2 linked regions of the Homo sapiens genome follow. The protein of the gene in region 2 interacts with the protein of the main gene of each other region in a biochemical or structural test. Each region holds a gene or a part of one and is shown on either strand. Other genes may lie near its edges.

Evidence for each region. Proteins that work in one complex are often made in the same cells at the same time.
Region 1: the proteins of EHD1 (region 2) and MUL1 form a complex in vitro, tested with the Homo sapiens proteins (one study listed by BioGRID).

Annotation. Positions count from the first base shown.
Region 1 is NC_000001.11:20,498,948-20,502,049, forward strand, and holds the end of MUL1 (mitochondrial ubiquitin ligase activator of NFKB 1), read right to left. Parts: intron 2,473-3,102; coding exon 1,743-2,472; 3' UTR 501-1,742; downstream 1-500. UniProt on the Homo sapiens protein: Exhibits weak E3 ubiquitin-protein ligase activity. E3 ubiquitin ligases accept ubiquitin from an E2 ubiquitin-conjugating enzyme in the form of a thioester and then directly transfer the ubiquitin to targeted substrates.
Region 2 is NC_000011.10:64,868,257-64,872,473, reverse strand, and holds part of EHD1 (EH domain-containing protein 1), read left to right. Parts: intron 1-4,217. UniProt on the Homo sapiens protein: ATP- and membrane-binding protein that controls membrane reorganization/tubulation upon ATP hydrolysis. In vitro causes vesiculation of endocytic membranes. Acts in early endocytic membrane fusion and membrane trafficking of recycling endosomes.

The sequences.
Region 1 (3,102 bases), on a different chromosome or scaffold from region 2:
CAGTGAATGTACCCTCTGGGCCTACTTCCTCACCTGTACAGCACAGACACCGGGACTCGGCCTGCAGGGGTTTTGTGAGGATGAACTCACTCTGAAATGAGTTTGAAACAGCACACGGCACAGTACCTCATACACAGTATTGCTAAATGCTCATTTCCTCTCTGCTGTCCCCCAGCACCCCATCCCCATCCCATTCTCCCAGCAGGTGAAATCTCACTGCCCTGATTTGTAGGCTGTCGGGACAGACTTCAAAGATGGTCAGCAAGGCCAGATATGACCCACGGGTGGGCTGTCCAGATTCCTCCCCAGGGGGCAGGCATCCCGGCCGGCCTCTGCATCACCCCATCTGGGGGAGCCCCAAACCACTATAGCCGAGGAAAAGAACACAGAGGCCTCAAACTCCCCCACCTTTCACTCCATTGTGGCAGGGATTCAATCCCATCCTGGGGACACTTAGGCTTAGCCATTTAACTCCTGTTAACAAAGCAACAGGCTAGCACTTGGTTGCAACATGTTTAATTTCTGCTGTTCACACTGGACACTGCATCATACTAGTGTCGGCCCCTGAGGGCACCCCTTCCTCGCCTGCACAAAGGAGGACGAGAGATGAACATTCAGAGGCAGAAAAGGGCAATAAAAAAAGAGCTGTGTATGTGACCTCCAACTACTCAGAGGTGGGGGAAAACAGCCCCATCTGTCTTGCACTAAAAGGCTCACCAAGGGCAGGTGAGGGGCAAATGGTAATACTGGGAGGGGGTAACACAAGGAGAAGCGACATGAGTACACCAAGATGTCAAAGCTGCGACGGGCTGGATGAGGGAGCCCCAAGAGGGCATATGCTCAGGGTGCCAGCCGGCTGCTTTTCCTTGTGACAGCCTTGCAAGGAAGCTGTGAGGCCAGGACACTAGGCCAGTGGCATCCACACTGCGTCCTTCAGGAGGCGAGGCCTCTGCGCCTCATTCTCCAGGAGGGAAAACCAGGGACCACCCCGAGCTCTCCCAAGTGGCAGGAGTTCAAATCAGGGCCAGTGGCGAAACCAGGAGGCCTGCCTGACCAACTGCCCTTCACATGATCTCTCTTCAATCTGTTGCCCGGGGCCCCGACCATCTGGGCAGAAGCGGATGTGCTGACTTCACTTTCTTTTGTCCTCTACACACACGTGCAGGCGTTAAGGAGGCAAGCAGGTGAGGGGAAAGGAACACAAGTTGACCTGCCCAGCCTGACAATTCTGAAGAAAGACTGTTTCCCGGGGCATGAGGAAAAAGAAGAAAAGCTGCGGCAGAGTCTCTTCGGAGGCAGCACCCAAGGCATCCGTTGTACTCGGGGCCCAGCCTTTCCTCCCCTCTGAGTCCTCCACCAAGTCCACAGCAAGCAACGATTCACCAGAAAAAAACAGAAGACACAGGAACAGAAGAGCTGCTGATCACTGGCTTTGGTGCTTAAGTGATGAGGCATTTTCAGTCACACTCGCACTGATCTGGCTCCTGGGAGGAGACGCCACGGCATCCTCCCAGGGTGAGGCTCTGATGAGGCTGCACATGGACAGGGTCCCCTCTCAGGTGGGAAAGGCAGCATCCTGCCATTGGAGGCATGGGTCTGGAGAGTTTCTACCCAATTCCTCCCTCAATCATACCTGGAGGTGACAGCTACCCCCACCACTGCTCCTCCAAAGGCCTCGAGATAAAAATCCCTGAAAAGGGGGCAGGGGTGCTTCCAGGTCAAGCTGTGCGGCTTCCAAACTATTAGCTGTTGTACAGGGGTATCACCCGGGTGATCGCCTGTCTGCAGATAGGGCACTTCTTGGGCTCTGGCAAGGCGCGGTAGCACTCGGTGCAGGAACAAACGTGCCCACACTCCAGAAAGACGCAGGACTTGAAGCTGCTCAGACACACTACACAGGCGCTCTTCAGACTCTCCCTGTCCTCAGGCTTGGCTCGGCTCAGCAGCTGGGCCTCATGCTCCTGGAACTCCTCCTGCATCTGCTTGAGGCGCAGGCGCTCCTGCCGCTGCAGATACTGCTTCCGGAGAATGAAGAAGAGGGTGGCACATGTGGCAAAGCCAAAAACCAGCGCCAGCACCTTCCAGAGCCTGACGCTCGACTCCTGCCTCTGCAGCAGGCTGTCGAAGTCCTGGCTGCTTAGATAGTACTGCATGCCTTGTTTGGGCGGCTGCAGGCGGACAGAGTTGTTGTCCAGGACCAGTTCGCCAACCCCTGTGAGGGTGGCCCCCACCTTCAGCATCTCCTCGGTCTCTTGGATGCCTTTGGGCCGCTCACCGCTGATGTAGTGGCCGATGACATCGGTGAAGGACTGAATCGAGGGGTGGAACTTCTCATACACAGTCTCTAGACCCAGATCCACTGAGTCCAGGGGCTTCAGCACTCGCACAGCCACATCCACGCCATCCTCGTGGGGCACCAGGTCAAAGGGCACTGTGTTGGTCCTCTGATGAATGATCTTTGAGCAATCATTCCTAGAAGAATAAGAGAACTAAAGATACAGGGTAGCAAACAGCAAACACCCAGGCAGAACTGGAGATCAACTAAATGTGGAGGACAGCATATGGTCTGAAGTAACTGGAAGAAGACAGTAAGATCACTATCTCCAGTTGCCTCCTAACAAGGAGGCTCCATTTGTAGGTCCTGGGGCGATATCAGTGGGCAACAAATAACCGCCACAGACTATCATTTCCCTTTCCACTGTAAAACAAACATCTAAAACAAAACTCACTAGGACCAGTTGGAAAACTGATATTTCATATGATGGCACAAAAGCATTTTAGGAAATACTGAAATCACTGATTCAGTGGTTCTCAAACTTCAGTGTGCCTAACAACAGATTCCAGGTCCCTGATCCTGGAAATTCTGGTTGGATAAGTCACCAGGGACTGACTTATCCACTTCAGGGACTGAAGGGAGCTCAGAAATCTGCATTTCAACAAGATGCCTCGGTGATTCCGACATAGGAGGCCCACAGGCTACACACAAGAATATGACCTGCATTAAGAGACTGGGCTTCAACCTGTCTCAGGAGAAGCTGAAGTCACGGCAACAGCACCCAGGACCCCAGCATTTGAATAGACCAACTGCAAGGGTTTTGGCCA
Region 2 (4,217 bases):
CTTTTATTTTTTTGAGACAGAGTGTCGCTCTATCGCCCAGGCTGGAGTGCAGTGGCATGATCTCGGTTCACTACAACCTCCTCCTCCCTGGTTCAAGCGATCCTCCCACCTTAGCCTCCTGAGTAGCTGGGATTACAGGTGCATGCCACCACGCCTGGCTAATTTTTATATTTTTAGTAGATATGGGGTTTCGCCATGTTGGCCAGGCTGGTCTTGAACTCCTGACCTCAGGTGATCTGCCCGCTTCGGCCTCTCAAAGCATCATCACAGCCTTGAACTCCTGGGCTCAAGTGATCCTTCCACCTTAGTCTCCCGAGTAGCTGGGCCCACAGGCGCGGGCCATCATGCTCGGCTGGGGTTGTATGTCTTGTGTTGCTTGCCTTGGCCCCTGCCCTCTGAGATGCTCCCTCCCCACCTCCCACTCCCTCTGCTTCCTTTCCCTGGTAGGAAAGAGGCAGGCAGAGGTGTCTACACTGGCTGTCTCTGGGACAAGCACCAAAGTGTATGCTCCATATCAGTGGATCTGCAGACACAGCATGGCGTTTTGATTGGGAGCAAGGGGTGGACGTAGGTGTTGCCTTGTGGTCCCTGCCCTGGAGTTGCCTGTGCAGACAACAGGTTGGAGGAACAAGCCAGCAGGACATGAGGCTGCTGTCAGTGTGCTGCCCTGCTCTGCCTGTGTGGCCTCCCTCTCCCCTCCAGGTGCAAAGTGTGGCCCCTCTGCATCCCTGAGAGGCCAGGCTCCCCTATATCCACAGAAGGTCATCTCTACCCATTATGGGCAGGAAGGAGCCGGTGGCTGAAAGAGAAGCACATCACGCTGATTGGAGGAGGGGTTTCCTGCTGTGAAGTAGCAGAAGATCAAACCGATTTTACTAGACCATTTCTTTTCCTCCATAGCCCTAGAGGCCTTGGTTTAGATGTGTTTTACTAAAAGTTACCTGGTTAGGGTTTGAATGATGGTGTTTTATTGTCAGGAGAAAGACCATCGCTCAGTACCTCTTGGAGGTGCTGGGTGTAAACTCCAGGATGAGCCCCGCTAGGTGTACACAGGAGGAGTGGATTTCTGTTTCCTGGAGGCCCCGCCCGTCAGTCATGGAAAGGCCCGTGTGGCCTGTCCAGCGGAGGAGGTCGGAGTGGAGCAGTGCGTTCCCGGCAGGGCTGGCCACCTGCTACTGCCTTTGCTGGTGGCGTGGAAAGCAGGTGTTTCCCTCTCGGAAAGATGGGGCCGGCAGAGCACGCACCAGGGCCCCAGCACAACACGCCTCCCCTGGCCTGCCAGCCCGTTCCCTGGAAACATGTCCTTGTGGAGGCCGTGGATGGACATTGGGGTTGCTAATTGCATTTACTTCCATTTCCCACCCCGTCTGGCCCCGCCTGGCCCCTCCTGACTTTTTTTCCCCTTTCCCCATGGTCCTAATGTGTGCAGGAAACACGGTCTGAAAAGATAAGGTGGGCTGGTGCAGGCCCAAAGCAGTCAGGATGCAGCCAGGCTCTGTCAGGGACCCCTGAGGACTGCCTCAGGGACGAGAAGGGGGCCGGGTTGGGGTCTCTTGGGCTGCCTTTGCCTGTGTGCTAATCTGAGTGACTTTAAAGATACCGTTCTCCTGTGTCAGCAGAGAAAGGTGGCCTCTGGGGGCTGCGTTCATTCTTGAGTGCTGCCTGTGTGACTGATAAGGGCATTCCAAAGGGCAGCTGGGTCCGGCAGGGGTGGTGCCCTTGGCTCCAGGGGCTGCCGACCAGTTGCGTGGTCCCGGCAGTGCCTCATGCCGAGTCATCCCCCGGCGGGGCCTCTGTGGGCAGCCCGGCCAGTTCGTTCGTTCCCCACCATGGTCACTAGGCAACTGTGAACTAAGCGGGAGTTTTTGTGTCTCAATCTCCCCATGAAAGCTGTATCAGCATCAGCAGGGTAGTGTTTCTACTTGCAGTAGCAGATCAGAGACCTGGCCAGCTTTGTGTCTGACTTTCTGCTGGCCACTGCCACATCAGTGAGTTCCATTGAGTTATCACAGCAGCTGCATCTAGGAGGAAGCTCCTGCCTTTCAGAGGAGGAAGCAGAGGCTTAGGAAAGTTAAGTAATTGGCCTAAGATGACAGGCAGGCCAGCAAGTGTCGGCGCTAGGATTTGAACCCAGGTAGGGGCTGTGCTCCTACTGCGGCGGAGCTGAGAAGGGTGCCTTGGCATGAAGGCTGTGGGCGAAGGAGTGCCGGGAGCTTGGGTCAGACAGACCTTTGCCCCTGTTGGGTCATTACTGTGGACACACAGTAATGTGTGTCCCTCCTGAGACACACAGAGGCCACCCTCTGTTTCTCTCCCACCCAAGGTTAGACTCCAGTCCTGAAATGGACCTGAGGTCTGGGGCTTTGAACAGCAGTGCTGGTATTGTGTTCCCTGTTCCCAGCCATAAATGATCCCTTGGGGTCTCCAGGGAGCCTGGTGGCCTGGGCTCTCGTTTGCCCTCTGGTGGTCTGCAGGCTCCCTCTAAGCCTGGGAGCTGTCCTGATCCTTAGTGGTTGGATGGGGCCTCCCTGCCCACACTCCCACCTGTGTGTCCTGAGCCCTCCGGCCCAGAGGCAGGCCTGCGCCGTGGGCCGCCCCCACTTCCTGCCGACACCTCCTGAGATGGAGATGCCGCTGCCAGCAGCACCCCCAGGCTGAGGTTTCACCAGGGTGCTCCGAAGACCATCAAATGCTCCCAGGGGCTGCCCAAAGGCCATGAGCCAGGCCAGGTGCTGTGTCCCTCTTGGATTCAGCATCCATAGCACAAGTAGATCAGAAGGTTCAAGTCCCACGTTAGTACTTGGGGAGCTGGGTGGCTCTAGGGAGTTGCTGTAGTCCCTGGGAGCTGCATCAGTCCATCAGGAAACACCATAGCCTCTCCAGTTATTGTAGATTACCAGAATTTACATGTTAAGCTCTTGCCCTAGTGCCTGGTGCACAGTTAAGTGTTCAAGTGTCAGCTGGTTCATAGTCAAGAGATTGAAAAGCCCAGGGCTTTCCAGACGGTGATCTGAGTAACATCCTGGGGAGTATCCTCGGGGAAGTGCTGACTCAGCCGGGGTTTCCCGTTGGGTTCCAGGCCCTCCTTTGCTCCCAGCTCCAGGCCTCCCAAAACCCTCTGCTCGCCCCACCTGGCTGTGGTCTCCCTCTGTGGCCCAGCAGGCCAGGATGCCAAGACAGCTTTTGGCCTCAGCCTCTGCTGGGGGCGTGCAGGCTCTGCCACAGAGGAGGCGTACCAGGCGCTGCCCGCGCTCAGCACCTGTTCCCCAGGCTGCGCACTGGCGGTGGGCTGGGGAGCAGCTGGCCGAGCGCCTGCAAACATTCCGTTTATATTTGGGGGATGAGGCATTCTTCATGCATTTGAAGTCCTTGCCTACACACCCATCAGAATCTGAGCTTCTTAAGCCCAAAATACAAATCCTGCGAGTAAATAAGAGCAAACATTTACTCCTGCTCGCAGTGTGCCAGGCTCACTCCATCCTCCCGCGGCCCTCCAAGCTGGAAACCTACTATCTTCGTGTTACAGACTGAGAAGCTGGGAACCGAGGCTCTGAGAGGTCAGAGACCTGCTGGGTCACACAGCTCGTTGTTGAGTAGAAGGTTCAGGATGGAAATGTGGGCCTGATTCCAGAGTTCCTCTGCCCCCTCCCGCCCCTCTTTTGTTGCTTCTGTCTGATTTGCTGGGGTCTACGTTGTGTGTAGTGAAGTCCACCCTCCTCAGGTGCCCTGCTGTACAAAGCATTCCTGGGCTGCCGCCACCATGACAGAGAGTATTCCCATCGCCTGAAAGTTCCCGTGCCCCTCATAGTCACTCCTGGTCCCAGGCAGCCCACTGACCTTTGTCTCTAACTTTTGCCTTTTCCGGAATGTCACCTAAATGGAATCATACAGGATGAAGCCTTTTGCTTCCACCTTCACTTAGCAGGATGCTTCTGAGCTGCATCTGTGTGTTTGAGAGCCCCTGTGGCCCGCTCCTCTTTGTTGGGGGTCCTTGTCCCATCATAGGGATGCACCATCCGTTGTCATCCATTCACCTGTTGGGGCGCTTGGGTTGTTCCACCCGGGGCAGTTTTGAGTCAAGTACGTGGTTCGTGTGGGCGTGTGCTGCTGCTGCTCTCAGGTAAATGCTGAGGAACGGAGGCGCCTCTGTGCTCCACTGGAAAACCCTTCCGGAGGAGCTTCAGCCTGAGCAAGCCCAGGAACGAGGCCCAGCACGC